Linked DNA regions of Homo sapiens: region 2 is linked to region 1. The links come from fine-mapping of genetic effects on gene expression. A gene starts in region 1. The other region holds a variant in brackets. All regions are shown on one strand. Distances are from middle to middle.

What was found.
Region 2: its variant is fine-mapped to the expression of ULK3 in skin (TwinsUK, PIP 0.95).

What each region holds. Positions count from the first base shown.
Region 1 is chr15:74,839,056-74,847,376 of GRCh38, forward strand. It overlaps ULK3 (unc-51 like kinase 3), which reads right to left and starts at 4,101. Exons shown (of 16, transcript NM_001099436.4): 1 at 3,949-4,101; 2 at 3,225-3,365; 3 at 3,020-3,140; 4 at 2,350-2,454; 5 at 1,443-1,586; 6 at 1,179-1,261; 7 at 503-658; 8 at 213-318. The coding sequence starts at 4,050. It overlaps SCAMP2 (secretory carrier membrane protein 2), which reads right to left. Exons shown (of 9, transcript NM_005697.5): 8 at 6,418-6,538; 9 at 4,675-6,162. The coding sequence ends at 6,028. It overlaps MIR6882 (microRNA 6882), which reads right to left and starts at 1,652; the gene lies at 1,587-1,652. RefSeq lists silencers at 471-618, 3,863-4,582 and enhancers at 3,095-3,620, 3,689-4,600.
Region 2 is chr15:74,928,695-74,937,015 of GRCh38, forward strand. COX5A (cytochrome c oxidase subunit 5A) reads right to left here. Exons shown (of 5, transcript NM_004255.4): 2 at 422-538. Among named protein-coding and RNA genes, the nearest start is that of COX5A, 5.2 kb to the right of the region's middle. The variant CA/C (reference allele first, on the strand shown) is at 4,714.

The DNA.
Region 1 (8,321 bases):
GAAAGTGAGGTCATATGAGGAGTCTGGGCGAACCCCTCCCTGCCCCACAACGAACCCTCTGGAATCCCTCAAAACACAATATTCCAGGTTTACGCTCTGCTTTATCGCCTACAAAATTCTAGATAGAGAACTTCTGGAATCCACCTACTGCAGCCACAGATGACTCCCATCCCTGCTGCACCCACGGGCTTCAGGCATGGCCTGGGACTCACAGTGCAGGGCAGGTACAAAGAAGTCCAGAGCCTTGCAGTAGAGTGATAAGGCAGCTGCTGAATCCCCCTCCTGGTCTTTCTTCACAGCCTGCACCACCAGGGCGGTCTGGGGATGGGCAGATCAGGGGTCAGGTCCACCTCCCTACCCTCCCACACTCACCAAGATGGGAGATCAGCTCCCCTGAGCCCGCCCTCTGTCTCTGTTGGGTGAGTCACCAATTCACCACCAACGGGGGCAAGGAGACCTCCAGCCCACCCTCAGCCCACCCCAGCCCCAGCCGTCTGCTCACTGCTCGCCCCAGACTCTCCCCACTGGGCATGTGCTCCAGGTCCACCCAGGGGTGCGCAAAAAAGTCCTGGAAGGAGATGCGACGGCTGGGGTCCCGCTCCAGGAGCCGCTGCAGTAGGTCCCGGCAGTCTCGGGAGAGCAGGGGCCGCAAGGGGAGCTGCAGGGAAGGGAACGGCAGGGACAGATCACACTGGGCTCCTCCACCCCTACCCCTAGCCCAGGGGTCTGCGAGGAACCCCAGAGGTACGCGTTGGACAGGTGGGGAATCTGAGACCGAGGAGGAACAGGATGGGTCAGGATGATGGAGCCAGCGGGGAGCGAGGCCTCCATCCCTGGGCTCCCGGTGCACCCTCGCTGGAGCCCTGAGCTGAGCTAGAATCGTGTTTCTGGGTCCTTATTTCCCTCCCTGGACTATGCTCCTAGGAAGGCTGGGCCTGGCTCTGCTTTGCATTCTCCCCACAAGGGCCTGCAAAATGGGCACTGTGCTGCCAGCTGTGGGCTGACCTGAGGCCCTGGGACAGCCTGGCACCTCGACTTCCAGCCTAGAACCTGCCCCTCCACCACAAAGGCAGCCTGGAGCCCATACTCCAGTCTCTGCAGGTCAGAACGAGGTCTAAACCCTCAGGGCCCTGACTCCCTCTGCCCCCCAGTGGTCGCTAAGGCCCTGCTAGACACACCTCGATGACCCGGTTGCTACGGATCTTCTCTTCCAGCTCCGAGAACGACCTGGAGGCAAAGGGGGGCTGCCCGAAGAGGGCTTCTGTGGAAGGGAGGCAGAGCGGAGGCTGGGAGGGAATGGGTCAAGCCTGGCCTGACGCCCCTCAGCAGGGGCCCTGGGCCAGCAGTCAGTTTTCATCAGAACCCTTCAGAAGTGGCCCAGAGAGGCCTTGCCTGAGGAAACTGTAGGCCTCAGGGTGAGAAGCAGGGAAAAGAGGTCTCACCATACAGGATGACCCCCATGGACCAGAGGTCCACGCGGGCGTCATACTGCCGCTGGCACACCATCTCGGGGGCCATGTAGAGGGGGGAGCCACGGAGCACGTGCTTCTCATCCCACGGGGACATGTGTTGTGCGAAACCAAAGTCTGCAGGCAAGAGGAGAGGCAGCAGGGCTTGAATTCCAGCTGCTTCAGCTCCTGACTTGTAAAGCCTCACCCCAGGCTCCTCTCCACCCTCCAGACCCGCCAGGATCAACCCTATTTCCAAGCCTCTGCTCATCATTAGGCTGGAACACCCTCCTATATCTGCCTCTGGGGTATAAAACCTACCCATCCTTCCCAGCTCCCTTGGGCACCTTTTCCTAGGAAGCCCACCTGATCACACCAGCTACCTGCATAAGCCCCCACCCTCTCACTGTCCCCCCAGGCTTAGGTTCTATCACAGTCTCTGGCCTCCAGTGTCAATTATCCAAATCTTATCAAGGGTCACCACCTCCTACTCCCCCACCACACCCCTCCTATGTGGCCACAGATGGAGTCACAGACTTGAGCCCCAATTCTGATGACAGACCAAGTCCTGTCCCTGCCCACAGAGGGATCCCTGATGCTTGTCACACGCTGAACCCTGGCACTGTTCCCAGATTGACCCCTAAACCTGGACACACAGTGAGTCCCAACTCTGGCCACAGACTGAGCCCTAACTCCACCCATTATGCTGCTGGACTTGAGCATGGGTAGCCTGAGAAAGCTTCCACCTTTTGATGACAGGGCCCAACCCCAGACTTCACGGCCTGTCACTCTTTGAGGACTCTATAGAGGGCTCCATAAGAACCAGGGCTGCTGAGTGAGCCCAGGCAGAGGGAGGCCTCTGCACTCTCCAAACCTCATCCCTGCTGTTTCAGACACAGACCTGCCAGTTTTAGGTGGGGCTTCTCCAAGGAGCTCAGTAGAATGTTCTGTGGCTTCAGATCCAGGTGAGAGATATTCCGTTCATGCAGGAATTGCAGGGCGCTAGCTGAGGAGCAGGACCCACGAAGAGAGACAGTTCAGAGCCCATTCCCGCCTGCCTCTCGCCTCCCCGGCTCACATCTGCCTCCTCAAGCCTGCACAACCCCAGTTCCTGCCTGGCTGGTCTAATGTTTTCCATATAAGCACCAAGATCACACCACTTCTAGGAGTTTGCCACCCCACCCGAGTGCCCACCCTCCTTCCCTCTGCCCCTTCACAAGTCTCCCCACCTCTCAGAAGCTTCTCTGGATGCCCCAGCCCTTGAGATCCTGCTCTTTTCCTTGGCACAGCACTTGAGTCCTACCTACAGGACTCTGGAATGTTCTACAAGGTCCTTATATTATGTTCTATGTATGGAAGCCTGAACACCCCACAGAGGGGTTACCCCCTCATCTCTCCCACAGCGTCCTTGAGCAAGGGTTGAGTGTATGAGATAAACAGGACCATAAAATTTCAGGCTGTGCAGGAGGCAGCTGCAATGCGTGCCAAGGCTCTAAGCCTGGGGGAGGGGTGGGATGGTGGGGGGCAGAGAACAAGGGACAGAGTGTCAGGCTGGTGTCACAGGCCTTTACCTAATTGCTGCATGAAGACACGCGCCACCTTCTCAGGCAGAATCCTGCGGGTATGGATGAAGCGAGACAGGTCGCCCCCTGCGCAAAACTCCATGATGAGGTAGATATTGTCACTGTCCCACTGTGTTTAGAGGCAGAGAGGCGGCCTGAAGAGAGTGTCCCTTCTCCAGCTCCCTTTGGCAGCGGCCCCGCCCCAGGCTCACACCTGAAAGTCTTTCAGCTGCACAATGTGGGGATGTCGAATGCCCTTGAGGATCTCAATCTCCGTGAGGAGGTTCTCCACCGATGCCTTGTTCAGACTTTTCTTGGCTACACACTTTATGGCTACCACTTCACGAGTGTCCTTCTGCGAGACAGGAGATTTGGGGACTCTGCCTTGAGGGGGCCAGGACCCTTGTCTGACTGGAAAGGCTCTATCTGGTTCCCTCTGTTCCCCCACCCCGCCCCTCCCCGGGTCTACCTACTGCACACCAGCACCGGGCTTCCCAGCTTTCCCTTGTGAGGCCAGTGAGGAATGCTGATTCTGGAATCCTGGCTTCCCGACACAGCCTCAGCCTGGTCTTCTCCAACCCTCGGCTAGCTGATCCATTTCTTTGCATTCTGGAGTGCTCCCGGCAGAGGCATGTCACTCAGGGTTCTAGAACCGCCCACTCTGCCTCCCAACTGGCTCCAGTCCCAGACTCCTCCCAGCCCACCAGGTAACCTGTTTTGAGCCTGTTCTTCAGCCACTGACCCTGCAGGTGGGTGCAGGTGCGCTCTTTAAGACCTAAGCGTGGCAGTCGGCTCCAACCTCCGCCGAGGGTCAGCTGGGGCGAGGCCGGCCTCCCGCCCCTAACTATTCCCACACTGTCGCTAACCTCTCAGAGTCTCCCCGGCCGGCACCAGCCGAGCTAGCTCGGGCGGGCACGGGGCCATCGGCCGGCACCCACCTTGGCGTAGGCCTTGTACACCGTGGCGTACGTGCCGCTGCCCAGGCGCTCGGTGAGGATGAAGCCGTCCAGGCGCGGGGGACCCCAGCCGGGCCCCGCCATTCCGGCCGCCTGCGCCCGCGCGGGCGCTTCCTCGCTGCGGGCGGCGGTTCCGGCGGGTTGCGGGGCGGGCCGAGCACTGGGTGGCTCCACGCTGCCCCCAGCGCCGCCCGCCGGAAATGCAGCGCGCATCGGGGACGCGGATCCGCCCGGCTCCCGGCGCCCCTCCCCTGTCTCTGGGCCTCGCCGGGTCACGCGCCCCGCCAGTTCCTGCAGGGCCCACGTGGGGATACGGAGGCCCCGCGAGCCTAGAAGTTAACAACGGAGGACGGCCGGCGTGGTCTCCGGGGACTCCTAGCGGGCGCAGAGGCGTCTAGAGATCGCCCACGTGAGGGCGCGGGCGGCGGAGCGGGCGTGTGTGGGGGCGACGGCGTCCGGGAGGCTCCCAGGGCCCCTCCCCAGGACCCGCAGCTCTGAAAGGAGAGCTACTGGCACGAGAAGGCGCCTTTGGAAGAGGCCGCGTTGGCTTCCCAGGCCTCCCAGCTGCTTTTCACTTTTCTGAGGAAGGGCCTTGACCTATTTATTGCATCTTAACTGTCCCCGCTCTCCAATCTTAGCAGCGGCGCCCAGCCCCTAATCCTGTGGGCTGCCCCGTCCTCCCAAGTCCACCAGACATGTGGACCCGTGTTGTCTGAAAATGTTTTTATTTTTACTTAAGCACAAAAATTGAGACGTAACATATACATTTGTACATAGAGGGGAAAAAATACCAGAAAGGAGTTCATAAAACCCCAGCCGCTGCCAGTATCATTCAGTGGCTGGGGCCTGCGGCTGTCTCGGGCCCAGAGCCGGAGGCTAGTTTTGTGGGAAGGCACCCCAGTCCACACACCCACTCGGCAGCCTCGAGGGACAGGGTGCTGGTTTTAAGGGTGGACTCCTACGTGTCCCATCACAGTGACACACCCCCCAGGGTGTGAACCAGACTCCACTGGGTATTAGGGGGCCCTCCGAGAGATGGCTTATCAGTCCCTGCTGAGGGATGCGGTTCTGGACTGGCTGGCCCTGCCCTTCCTGAAAGTCTGGATGCTGCTGATGGGGAGCATGGGCGGGGCAGGTGGCATCTGAGGCAGAGACAAAGGCAGCCGTCCCTCGGTTCGGGGAGGGGGGGGGGTAGTCACAGCAAACAGGGCCAAACCAACCACACCAGGACAGGCAGACCCCACCCTCCTAGAAGACGCTGGACGCTAGGCAGGACAGCTTGGGGTCAGTGTCCTTGGTCCCTTCCAGTCCCCAAATCCCAACCAACGGCATTGTACATTCAGAAAGTCTGAAGAGAGTAAGGCTCAGCAAGGGGAGGGCTCCAGAGGGCTCAAAGTGCCATCCCCTGCAGGAGGGTGCAGGGGGATAAAGGGCTATTAATCCGTTTCTCAGGAACACGAGGCAGGGAAGAGCTTAAGGCAACCAGCCTTCTCTGGATCCGTTTATGAGGCAGAGAAGAGCTTGAGGCAACCAGCCTTCTCTGGAAGCCTGGAGACCACTGGAGTGACCTGGGGAACAGATCTGTCCACCAGAACCTGTGAGAGGCTTATTCCCAGCCCAGGCAGGAAGGACTGGGCTGTGTCTAAGAAGCCAGATTCAGGCCAGGCCTGCAGGGTGGGGGAGTCAAGGCCCAGGACCCTGGCAGAAAGCTCCAGCTGGGATGGGCCCAGGTCAGCCTGTGATCCCAACTGTGTGGGGGTGTCTGTGTGTGCACAGGACGAAGAGAACTTCAGTCCCACTGCTTCCAGAGACAAAAGAATCCTACCAAACCATCACCAGAGAAGGAAAGAGAGCTTTGTTTTTTTTTGTACATAGAGGGGGAAAAAATTCCCTGTCCCTCCCGTTCCAGGGAGAGCTGGTCGCTGAGGGAGGAGGAAGAGCCACGGCAAGAACCCTGCCAGGTCTGTGCTGGGCACAACCACCACCACATAAGGCACCCACGGAAAGTGCAGCTCAGAAGGCAGGCGAGAGAAAGGCTGAGGGGGAGAGAAGAGAGGAGGACTAATTCCCCTGGAAGGCTCCTTGGGCAGCAGATGAAGCAGCTCTGTGGAAGGTTCTGCTGCTGAAGATGCCCTGGGAAAACTCCTCCTGGGCCTGCTGGAAGCTGGCCCCTGTCCGTCGGTAGAGGGAGTGCACCTGGCGAAGAGGGGTGGGGTGAGAGAAGCCTGTCCTTTGGGCCCACCAGGAAGCCAGCCATCCAGGTTATACTCCCAAAGGGGTCACCAGAAGCCTGGCACTGCCTGACCCCCCACCCAGATCCCTGGAGAAAGGTACTGGACCTTTGGGGGCCTAGGATGCCCAACTGCAGTGGTGAAAAACATCTCGTGGCAAGGGCAGGAAACGGTTGCCTGCCTCCTCCCATTTGCTGTCAGCCCTGCCCACACCACTCACCCGCTGCAGGAGGAAGACTGAGAGCACGGCACAGAGGGTGAAGAAGCCAGCCACCACCATCATGATGACTGATATGGCCAGGGAATGATTATCCAGTGTAGACAGGGCTGCAATCCAACCGCTATAAAGGGAAGAAGAGGCCAGAGGGAGCAAAGTGGGAGTGGGCTCCAAAAGTCAGCATAAGGGGCTCTTCTCCAAGTGGCTGCTGTGTCCTGACCATCACCTTGGCATCTCCCCACAGCACAGGGAGCCCTGTGAGCCAGAAGCCCTTGGCCTGTGAGGCCAGACCTCCGTGAAGGCTGACAGGCCCACACTACCCCATTCACAAGGGGAATCTTCTGGTTATGTGAGGTCTGAAAGGGAGGATGTGGTTGCTGCCTTCACAGAGTCAGAAGTAGCACCGGGCTGGGTGCTATGGCTCTCACCTGTAATCCCAGCACTTTGGGAGGCTGAGGCAGGAGGATCGCTTGAGCCCAAGAGTTCAAGACCAACCTGGGCAACAGAGGGAGGCCCTGTCTCCATAAAAAATAAAAAAAGGCCAGGTTCGTGCCTGTAATCCCAGCACTTTGGGAGGCCAAGGAAGGCAGATCACTTGAGGTCAGGAGTTTGAGACCAGCCTGGCCAACATGGAGAAACCTTGCTCTACTAAAAATACAAAAATTAGCTGCGCGTGGTTGCACACGCCTGCAATCCCAGCTACTCGGGAGACTGAGGCAGGAGAATCACTTGAACCTGGAAGGTGCAGGCTGCAGTGAGCCGAGATCATGCCATTGTACTCCAGCCTAGGTGACAGGGCGAGACTCCAACTCAAAAAAAAAAAAAATTAGCTGGCTGTGGTCATACATGCCTATGCTCCCAGCTACTTGGGATGCTGAGGTAGGAGGATCACTTGAGCCCGTGAGGTTCAAGGCTGCAGTGAGCTGTGATCACGCCACGGCACTCCAGCCTGAGCAACAGAGTGAGACCCTGTCTCCAAAAAAAAAAAAAAAAGAAAAGAAAAAAGAAAAAGGGCTGGGCACAGTGGCTCAAGCCCGTAATCCCAACACTTTGGGAGGCCAAGATGGGCGGATCACGAGGTCAGCAGATCGAGACCATCCTGGCTAACACAGTGAAACCCCATCTCTACTAAAAATACAAAAAATGAGCCAGGCATGGTGGCAGGCACCTACATAGTCCCAGTTACTCGGGAGGCTGAGGCAGGAGAATGGCGTGAACCTGGGAGGCGGAGCTTGCAGTGAGCAGAGATCGCGGCACTGCACTCCAGTCTGGGCAACAGAGACTCCATCTCAAAAAATAATTAATTAAAAAGGTAGCACTGGGCCGGGCCTTTTTCTGCTGCTTTGGGGGTGGGGAGTATGGAAAGCGTGGCTGCTCACTCCTGAGGACCCACCTTCTGTGAAGGAGGATCACTGGCCAACTTGCTGTCACCTGTCTGAGCCCCATGTCCTCATCTGTAAAAGGGATATCCTCATATTTCTTGACATCAAAACTTACTACAAAGCTACAGTCACTAAAATAGTGTAGGACTGGCATAAACATAGACATATAGATCAATAGATCAATGGAATAGAACTGAGATTCCAGAAATAAACCCATACACCTATTGTCAGTTAATTTTTTTTTTTTTTTTTTTTTTTGAGATTGAGTCTTGCTCTGTAGCCCAGGCTGGAGAACAGTGGTGTGATCCCGGCTCACTGCAACCTCCACCTCCCGGGTTCAAGTGATTCTTCTGCCTCAGCCTCCCAAGTAGCTGGGATTATAGGCACCTACCAATGCGCCTGGCCAATTTTTGTACTCTCTAGAAACAAGGTTTTGCCATGTTGGCCAGGCTGGTCTCAAACTCCTTCCTGACCTCAGGTGATCCACCCGCCTTGGCCTCCCAAAGTGCTGGGATTACAGGCATG
Region 2 (8,321 bases), 90 kb after region 1:
GTTTGAAATGTACAAAACTGTTACCTTTTGCTCATCTAGCCTTATTGCTATAGCAGTGGTTTTCAATTAAGGGTGACTTCATCCCTCAGGAGACACTGGGTAATGCCTAGAAACATTTTTGGTTGTCATGATACGAATGTGTGCATACTGGCTCCTAGCAGGTAGAGGCCAAAGGTGATGCTAAACACCCTACAGTGTAAAGGACAGTCCCCTACAACAAAGAATTATCTGGCCCAAAATGTCAATAGTGCCTGCCTTAAAATCCTGCTTTATAGGTAGCCATAAACTTTCCTAACTGCAAGTTGCATGAAGTAACCAGTTTAAACAACGCATGTTTTCGAAACAGTTGCTCTCAATAAAGGAGCAGAAGCAGTTCATATTTACACACCAAAATAGACAAATATGTTTATGTTCCAATTACCTTTACGCAATTCCCAGGCATCTATATCTGGCTTGTTGAAGTATGTTACCCAGCGAGCATCAAACTCCTCATCTGTCTCCTGTGACCCATGGGAATAGCAGCGAACTGACTGGATAGCTATAATGTGAAAGAACCATAACTTCAATGTACACAAATAGTACTTGATATATTTTGTTCAATGCATTAAATTTTGAGTTGACTATATATGTTGTGGCAGCAAAAATATTGAACAGGTCAAATGAAATACATCGTATACATTGATACAGAAAGATATATTTTAAATTAAGCAAATAAAATCAAGTAGAACAAAAAGTATTACATAGGCATGTTTATACTTTTCTCCCTAATGTATAATACTCGCTTGAAATTATTAACAGTGGTTCCCTCTGATTTTAAATTAACAGTGATTATCATGGGACGTAAAAACTACTTTATATACTTCCATATTGTTTGAATTTTTACACATAACCAGAGTATTAATTCCTAAGTAAAAATGTCCCAGGTGGGCATAGTGGGGCACACACCTGTAGTGCCAGCTACTCAGAGGCTGAGGCAGGAAGATTACCCGAGCCCAGGAGTTCAAGGTCGTAGGGTGCTAACAATATGACAGAACCTGATAAGATAGCCATTGCATTCCAGCCTGGGCAACACAGCGACACCCCACTTCTAAAAACTAAGAATAGGCCAGGCGCAGTGGCTCACGCCTGTAATCCCAGCACTTTGGGAGGCCGAGGCAGGCGGATCACGAGGTCAGGAGATCAAGACCATCCTGGCTAACACGGTGAAACCCCGTCTCTACTAAAAATACAAAAAATTAGCCAGGTGTGGTGGCGGGCGGCTGTAGTCCCAGCTACTCGGGAGGCTGAGGCAGGAGAATGGCGTGAACCTGGACGGCGGAGGTTGCAGTGAGCTGAGATCACACCACTGCACTCCAGCCTGGGCGACAGAGCAAGACTCCAACTCAAAAAACAAACAAACAAACAAAAACAAAAACAAAAACAAAAACTAAAAAACTAAGACTAGGCCGGGCGCAGTGGCTCACGCCTGTAATCCCAGCACTTTGGGAGGCTGAGGCGGGTGGATCAAGAGGTCAAGAGATCAAGGCCATCCTGGCCAACATGGTGAAACCCCATCTCTACTAAAAGTATAAAAATTAGCTGGGTGTGGTGGCGCGTGCCTGTAGTCCCAGCAACTCGGGAGGATGAAGCAGGGGAATTGCTTGAACCCAGGAGGCGGAGGTTGCAGTGAGCCAAGATTGTGCCACTGCACTCCAGCCTGGCGACAGAGCGAGACTCCGCCTCAAAAAAAAAAAAAAAGACAATAAACAACAACAACAAAAAAAACCAAAAAAGCAACAAAAAAAAAAAACTAAGAGCAATACTAATGTCCATTCAAGTTCTTTTTTTTGAGACAGGCTCTCGCTCTGTTGTTGCCTAGGCTGGAGTGTAGTGGCGCAATCACAGCTCACTGCAGCCTCAAATTCTTTGGGCTCAAGCATTCCTTCCTCCCTTGGCTCCCAAAGTGCTGGGATTACAGGTGTGAGCCACCAGCCCTGGCACCATTCAAGTTCTTAAATAAACTTATATACTTCATTCACACATTAAAAAAAAAAAAATCTCGGGCCGGGCTTGGTGGCTCACGCCTGTAATCCCAGCACTTTGGGAGGCCGAGATGGGCAGATCACCAGGTCAGGATATCGAAACCATCCTGGCTAACACGGTGAAACCCCGTCTCTACTAAAAATACAAAAAATTAGCCAGGTGTGGTGGCGGGCGCCTGTGGTCCCACCTAGTTGGGAGGCTGAGGCAGGAGAATGGCGTGAACCCAGGAGGCGGAGCTTGCAGTGAGCAGAGATCACGCCACTGCACTCCAGCCTGGGCAACAGAGCGAGACTCTGTCTCAAAAAAAAAAAAAAAAAAAAAAAAAAAAAATTCTCATGTTATTATATTCCAAAATAAATTACACATCCTGACAAATTACACATACAAATTGCTTTATCAAACTACAGCCCCTTCCCAAAATATTCTGATAAATCCCCTAAGGGAACGTACACTCTAATCTACACCTAATGCAAAATAATACTGTTTTACTAGGAATATTTTGGGCTGGGCGCAGTGGCTCACACCTGTAATGCCAGCACTTTGGGAGGCTGAGACTGGTGGATCACCTGAGTTCAGGAGTTTGTGACCAGCCTGATCAACATTGTGAAACTCCGTCTCTACTAAAAATACAAAAATTAGCTGGGCGTGATGACGGGCGCCTGTAATCTCAGCTACGCGAGAGACTGAGGCAGGAGAATCACTCGAACCCAGGAGGCGGAGGTTGAGGTGAGGTGAGATGATGCCATTGTACTCCAGCCTGGGCGACACAGCAAGACTCTGTCTCAAAGAAAAAAAGAAATGATGTTTACATAGAGTACTGTATGAAAAGCATTTCCATTTTTTTTTTTTTTTTTTGAGATCGAGTCTCACTCTGTCACCCAGGCTGAAATGCAGTGGAACAATCTCAGCTCACTGCAACCTCTGCCTCCTGGATTCAAGTGATTCTCCTGCCTCAGCCTTCTGAGTAGCTGAGACTACAGGCGAGCGCCACTAAGCTTGGCTAAGTTTTGTATTTTGAGTAGAGACGGGATTTCACCACATTGCCCAGGCTGGTCTCGAACTCCTGACCTCCAGTGATCTGCCCACCTCAGCCTCCCAAAGTGCTGGGATTACAGACGCGAGCCACTGCACCCAGCCCCATTTTTTCTTTCTTCTTGTCAAATGGACACTGAATTGAGTTTGGAAATCTGAATTCCTTCTGAACAGCCTCTGGAACAGGTAGGGGGATAGGCGGAGGCAGAAAATTTTATCTTTGGGTATTGAATGCAGCACAACCTAGCACTCAGATACCTCTAGGCTCTTCGCTCTCTCTGTTTGACCCTGGAAAATTAACTTAAGTTTATTTTCCTTATCTGTAAAATGGGGACGCTACCCCCCTTAGCAGATTATGAAGATTAAATGTGAAAACAGGTAGGTTAACACTATGCACTGGTAAGTATTAAACAAATGGTAGCTATAAACTAACCCTTATCTAAAAACGTCTTAGTTGTCTATTTATAGAAATCATAACTTAAAGAAATGAAACCTATCTCAAATCACATTTCCTACTACCTGTATTAGATAAGTGTGGTGTAACTTCCAGTTGTTTAAGGCTTAACATATTTTTATTTATTTACTTTTAGAGATGGGGGTCTTGATATGTTGCCCAGGGTGGTCTTAAACTCCTAGCCTCAAGCAATCCTACCACTCCCAAAATACTAGAATTACAGGTGTGAGCCACCATGCCCAGCCTTAACATACATATATATATATTTTTAAAAACTTCACCCAGAAACCTCTCAACATTGTTGTTCTAAGAACACTGAAATTTAAACATTAGTAATATCCTATATATCTTTAATGCAGTAACTGGCAGGAGGAAGAGTAGCAAAAAAACGAAGCAGAAAAGATCTTCCCAGAGACCTAAATTACCTACATAATCCAAGCCCAGAATGAAGTGGAACATGTACATAAATGGACTAGAAGTGAACACGTTTTAATTTCTTTTTTTTTTTTTTTGAGACAGAGTCTCACCCTGTCGCCCAGGCTGGAGTGCAATGGCACGATTTCGGCTCACTGCAACCTCCACCTCCCGGGTTCAAGTGATTCTCCTGCCTTAGCCTCCCAAGTAGCTGGGATTACAGGCATGCGCCACCATGTCAGGCTAATTTTTTGTATCTTTAGTAGACACAAAGTTTCACCATGTTAGTCAGGCTGGTCTCGAACTCTTGACCTCATGATCTGCCTGCCTCGGCCTCCCAAAGTGCTGGGATAACAGGCATGAGCCACGGTGCCCAGCCTTAATTTCTACAACAAGAAAAAAATGGATCTCTACACCTAAATATGTCTGGTAAGTATGAACATTTAATCAAAACTACGTGGATATTTAATAAGTCTTACAAGACTAATATTCAAATTTAATATATCAGAAAACAAGGCCAGGTGCGGTGGCTCACACCTGTAATCCCAGCACTTTGGGAGGCTGAGGCAGGCAGATCACTTGAGGCCAGGAGTTCAAGACCAGCCTGGCCAACATGGTGAAACCCTGTCTCTACTAAAATACAAAAAATTAGCCAGGCGTGGTGGCACACCCCTGTAGTCCCAGCTACTTGGAATGCTGAAGGAGGAGAATAGCTTGAACCCAGGGAGGTTGCAGTGAGCCAAGATCGTGCCACTGCATTCCAGCCTGGGCGACAGAGCAAGACTCCGTCT[CA/C]AAAAAAAAAATATCTATCTATCTATCTATCTATCTATCTATCTATCTATCTATCTATGTAAAAACATAGATTAGAACAACCATCTAATGCACTATTATCAAGAACTTAGGGCCAGATGCAGTGGCACTAGCCTCGGAGACAGAGTGAGACCCTGTCTCAAAAAAGAAAAAATTATAAGCCACCTCTTCAAAAACTAAAGCTAGCCTTAACTGAATACTGAAAGTGCAAGTATAAAATGATACAATCACTTTGGAAGACGGTTTAAGCAGTTTCTTATCAAGTTAAACACAAACCTACCATATAACACAGTAATTCCACTCCTAAGTATTTACCCAATGAAAGGTCTATGTACTCCTTCCCCAGAGGTAATTACCTGTCCCATCCACAACAGTGCTTCATGATAAGCAATTCGTTTTGTTCACTGCTGGGCATGGATTTGACTACATGAGTGCTAGGCTTTGTTTCCTAACTGTGAATAAGATGACCACCAACAGCAAATCCAAGTCAAGGAGATCACCACCTTCAAGGATTTGATCATATGTCTTCTGGAAGCCAAATTACAAACTGGTTGTATTCCAAAAAGTCTTTTATAAAACAGAACTAGAACTTTGAGAGGCCAAGGCAGGATCGCTTGATGCCAGGACTGAGAGACCAGCTTGGGCAACAAAGACAGACCTCCATTCTCCACAAAAAACTTAAAAAATTAGCGGGGTTTGGTGGTCCCAGCTACTCAGGAGGCTGAGGCGGGAGGATCCCTTGAGCCCAGGGCAACAAGGCTGCAGTGAGCTATGACTGCGCCACTGCACTCTAGCCTAGGTGATAGAGCAACACTCTATATCAAACAAATTAAAATAAATAAAAATTTAAAAACCCATACATCCCTTTCTGAAGGGCTAAAACAGACTCTCCCCACGTGATTTAAATTTTTTTTTTTTTTTTGAGATGGAGTCTCACTCTGTCGCCCAGGCGGGAGTGCAGTGGCGCAATCTCAGCTCACTGCAAGCTCCGCCTCCCAGGTTCACGCCATTCTCCTATCTCAGCCTTCCCAGCAGCTGGGACTACAGGCACTCGCCACCACGCCCGGCTAATTTTTTTGTATTTTTAGTAGAGACGGGGTTTCACCGCGTTAGCCAGGATGGTCTCGATCTCCTGACATTGTGATCCGCCCGCCTCAGCCTACCAAAGTGCTGGGATTACAGGCGTGAGCCACCATGCCCGGCCATGATTTAAATTATATTGTTAAATCCAATAATGGGTAAAGCAGGATCTATTCTATTAGCTATGGACACATCCCCCACATGCTTAACTTTTTTTAGGTAAACTCTACTAGCATTCTCTGCCCCACACACCCCACCCCACTTAAGAACAGGATCTCCACCTAGTATTGAAGCTTGAAAGGCAAATTATTTTGGAAAACAATTACTCAGAGCTTTTACGTAACCTGAAAGTCCCAAAGTAAGAAAAAAGAAGCAGCTGTGAAAAATGAGGACATTTTTAGGGCTTCATCCTAAAAAGCTATTTCTAACACTGCTTTTTGGCATTCAGTTAAGCACTCCATTTAAAAACAAAAAAGGCTAACATATATAGAAAAATAAAAGGGCTCATTGATCCTTTGGGTTTAAATTTAGTTAAATCGGATAGTTTTCCATTTAATAAATAATCAACCCTGACAGGCCCAAAGAATGAACACTTTGGTGGTGGTAACTGTAGGAATGAGGGCACATTAACGAGTTACTGAGGCTGGGTGCAGTGGCTCTCGCTTGTAATCCCAGCACTTTGGGAGGCTGAGGTGGAAGGATGGCTTGAGCCCAGGAGGTTAAGGCTGCAGTGAGCTGTGCCAACTGCACTGCAGCCTGCATGACAGAGCGAGACCCTGTCTCAAAAACAAAAACAAAAACAAAACAAAACCACAACAACAGAAGAAGAAAAAGAAAAATTTGGCTGGGCATGGTGGCTCACACCTGTAATCCCAGCACTTTGGAAGGTGGGAGGAGGGAGGCACTCCTGAGCCCAGGAGTCCCCAGACCAGCCTGTTTCTACGGAAAATAAAACTGGTGGCGCACCCTTGTGGTCCCAGCTACTTGGAAGGTGGAGGCAGGAGGATCAGTTGAGTCCCAGGAGGTCAAGGCTGCAGTGAGCTGTGATGGTGCCACTGCACTCCAGCCTAGGCAACACAGTGAGACTATCACCAAAAAAAAAAAATAAATAAATAAATAAATAAAAAATTTTTTTTTTGAGATGGCATGATTTCGGCTCACTGCAAACCTCTGCCTCCCGGGTTCAAGCAATTCTAATGCCTCAGCCTCCCAAGAAGCTGGGACCACGTGTGCGTGCCACCACACCCGGCTAATTTTTGTATTTTTAGTAGATACTGGGTTTCGCCATGTTCAGGCTGGTCTGGAACTTCTGATCTCAGGTAATCTACCCGCCACAACCTCCCAAAGTGCTGGGATTACAGGCGTGAGCCACCGTGTCCGGCTGAAAAATGTAAATTGTACTGTTACTTTAGCAAAACACAAAATCTAAACAAACATCAGGATGGCCCAAACATAACTATAAGAAACAAAAATGGTTCCACCATTAAAAAGGAGTCAGTTTCGGCCAGGTGTGGTGTCTCACGCCTGTAATCCCAGCACTTTGGGAGGCTGAGGCAGACGGATCACCTGACCTCACGAGCTCGAAACCAGCATGGCCAACATGGTGAAACCCCATCTCTACTAAAAACACAAAAAGTAGCCGGGCATGGTGGCAGGTGCCTGTAACCCCAGCTACTCCGGAGGCTGAGGCAGGAGAATCGCTTGAGCCAAGACCGTGCTATTGCACTCCAGCCTGGGCAACAAGAACGAAACTCTGTCTCAAGAAAAAACAAAACAAAACAAAACAAAACAAAAACAAACAAACAAACAAAAAAAAACAAGGAGTCAGTTTCCCAAGATGGACTTTGGTTTCCTTTTCTATAAAATAAAATGGCTTCCACGATCTCTAAAGTACACTCTAGGTTGGCTGCAGTGGCTCATGCCTATAATCCCAAACTTTGGGAGGCTGAGGTGGGAGGATCACCTGAGCCCAGGAGTTCAAGCCCAGCCTGGGCAACATAGGGACACTCCGTCTCTAATTTAAAAATAAATAAATAAACAAAAATAAAGTACCCTCCAGCCTTATGGTTCTACGACAAATGATAAAAGTCTAAAATGAATGAAGCAAAACATATTCTTTTTTTTTTTTTTTTTTTTTTGAGACGGAGTCTCGCTCTGTCGGCCAGGCTGGAGTGCAATGGCGCGATTTCGGCTCACTGCAACCTCCGCCTCTCAGGTTCAAGCGATTCTTGTGCTTCAGCCTCCCGAGTAGCTGGGATTACAGGCGCCCACCACCACACCCAGCTAAATTTTTTGTATTTTTAGTACAGACAGGGTTTCACCATGTTGGCCAGGCTGGTCTTGAACTCCTGACCTCAGGTGATCCGCCCGCCTCGGCCTACCAAAGTGCTGGGATTACAGGCATGAGCCACCGCGCCCGGCTGAGTTCTTTTTTTAATTTTTAACTTCAGCATACCCTGAAACGAGTTTCTGAGTTCTTATGTTTAAATACGCATGCATAGTTGCCAGT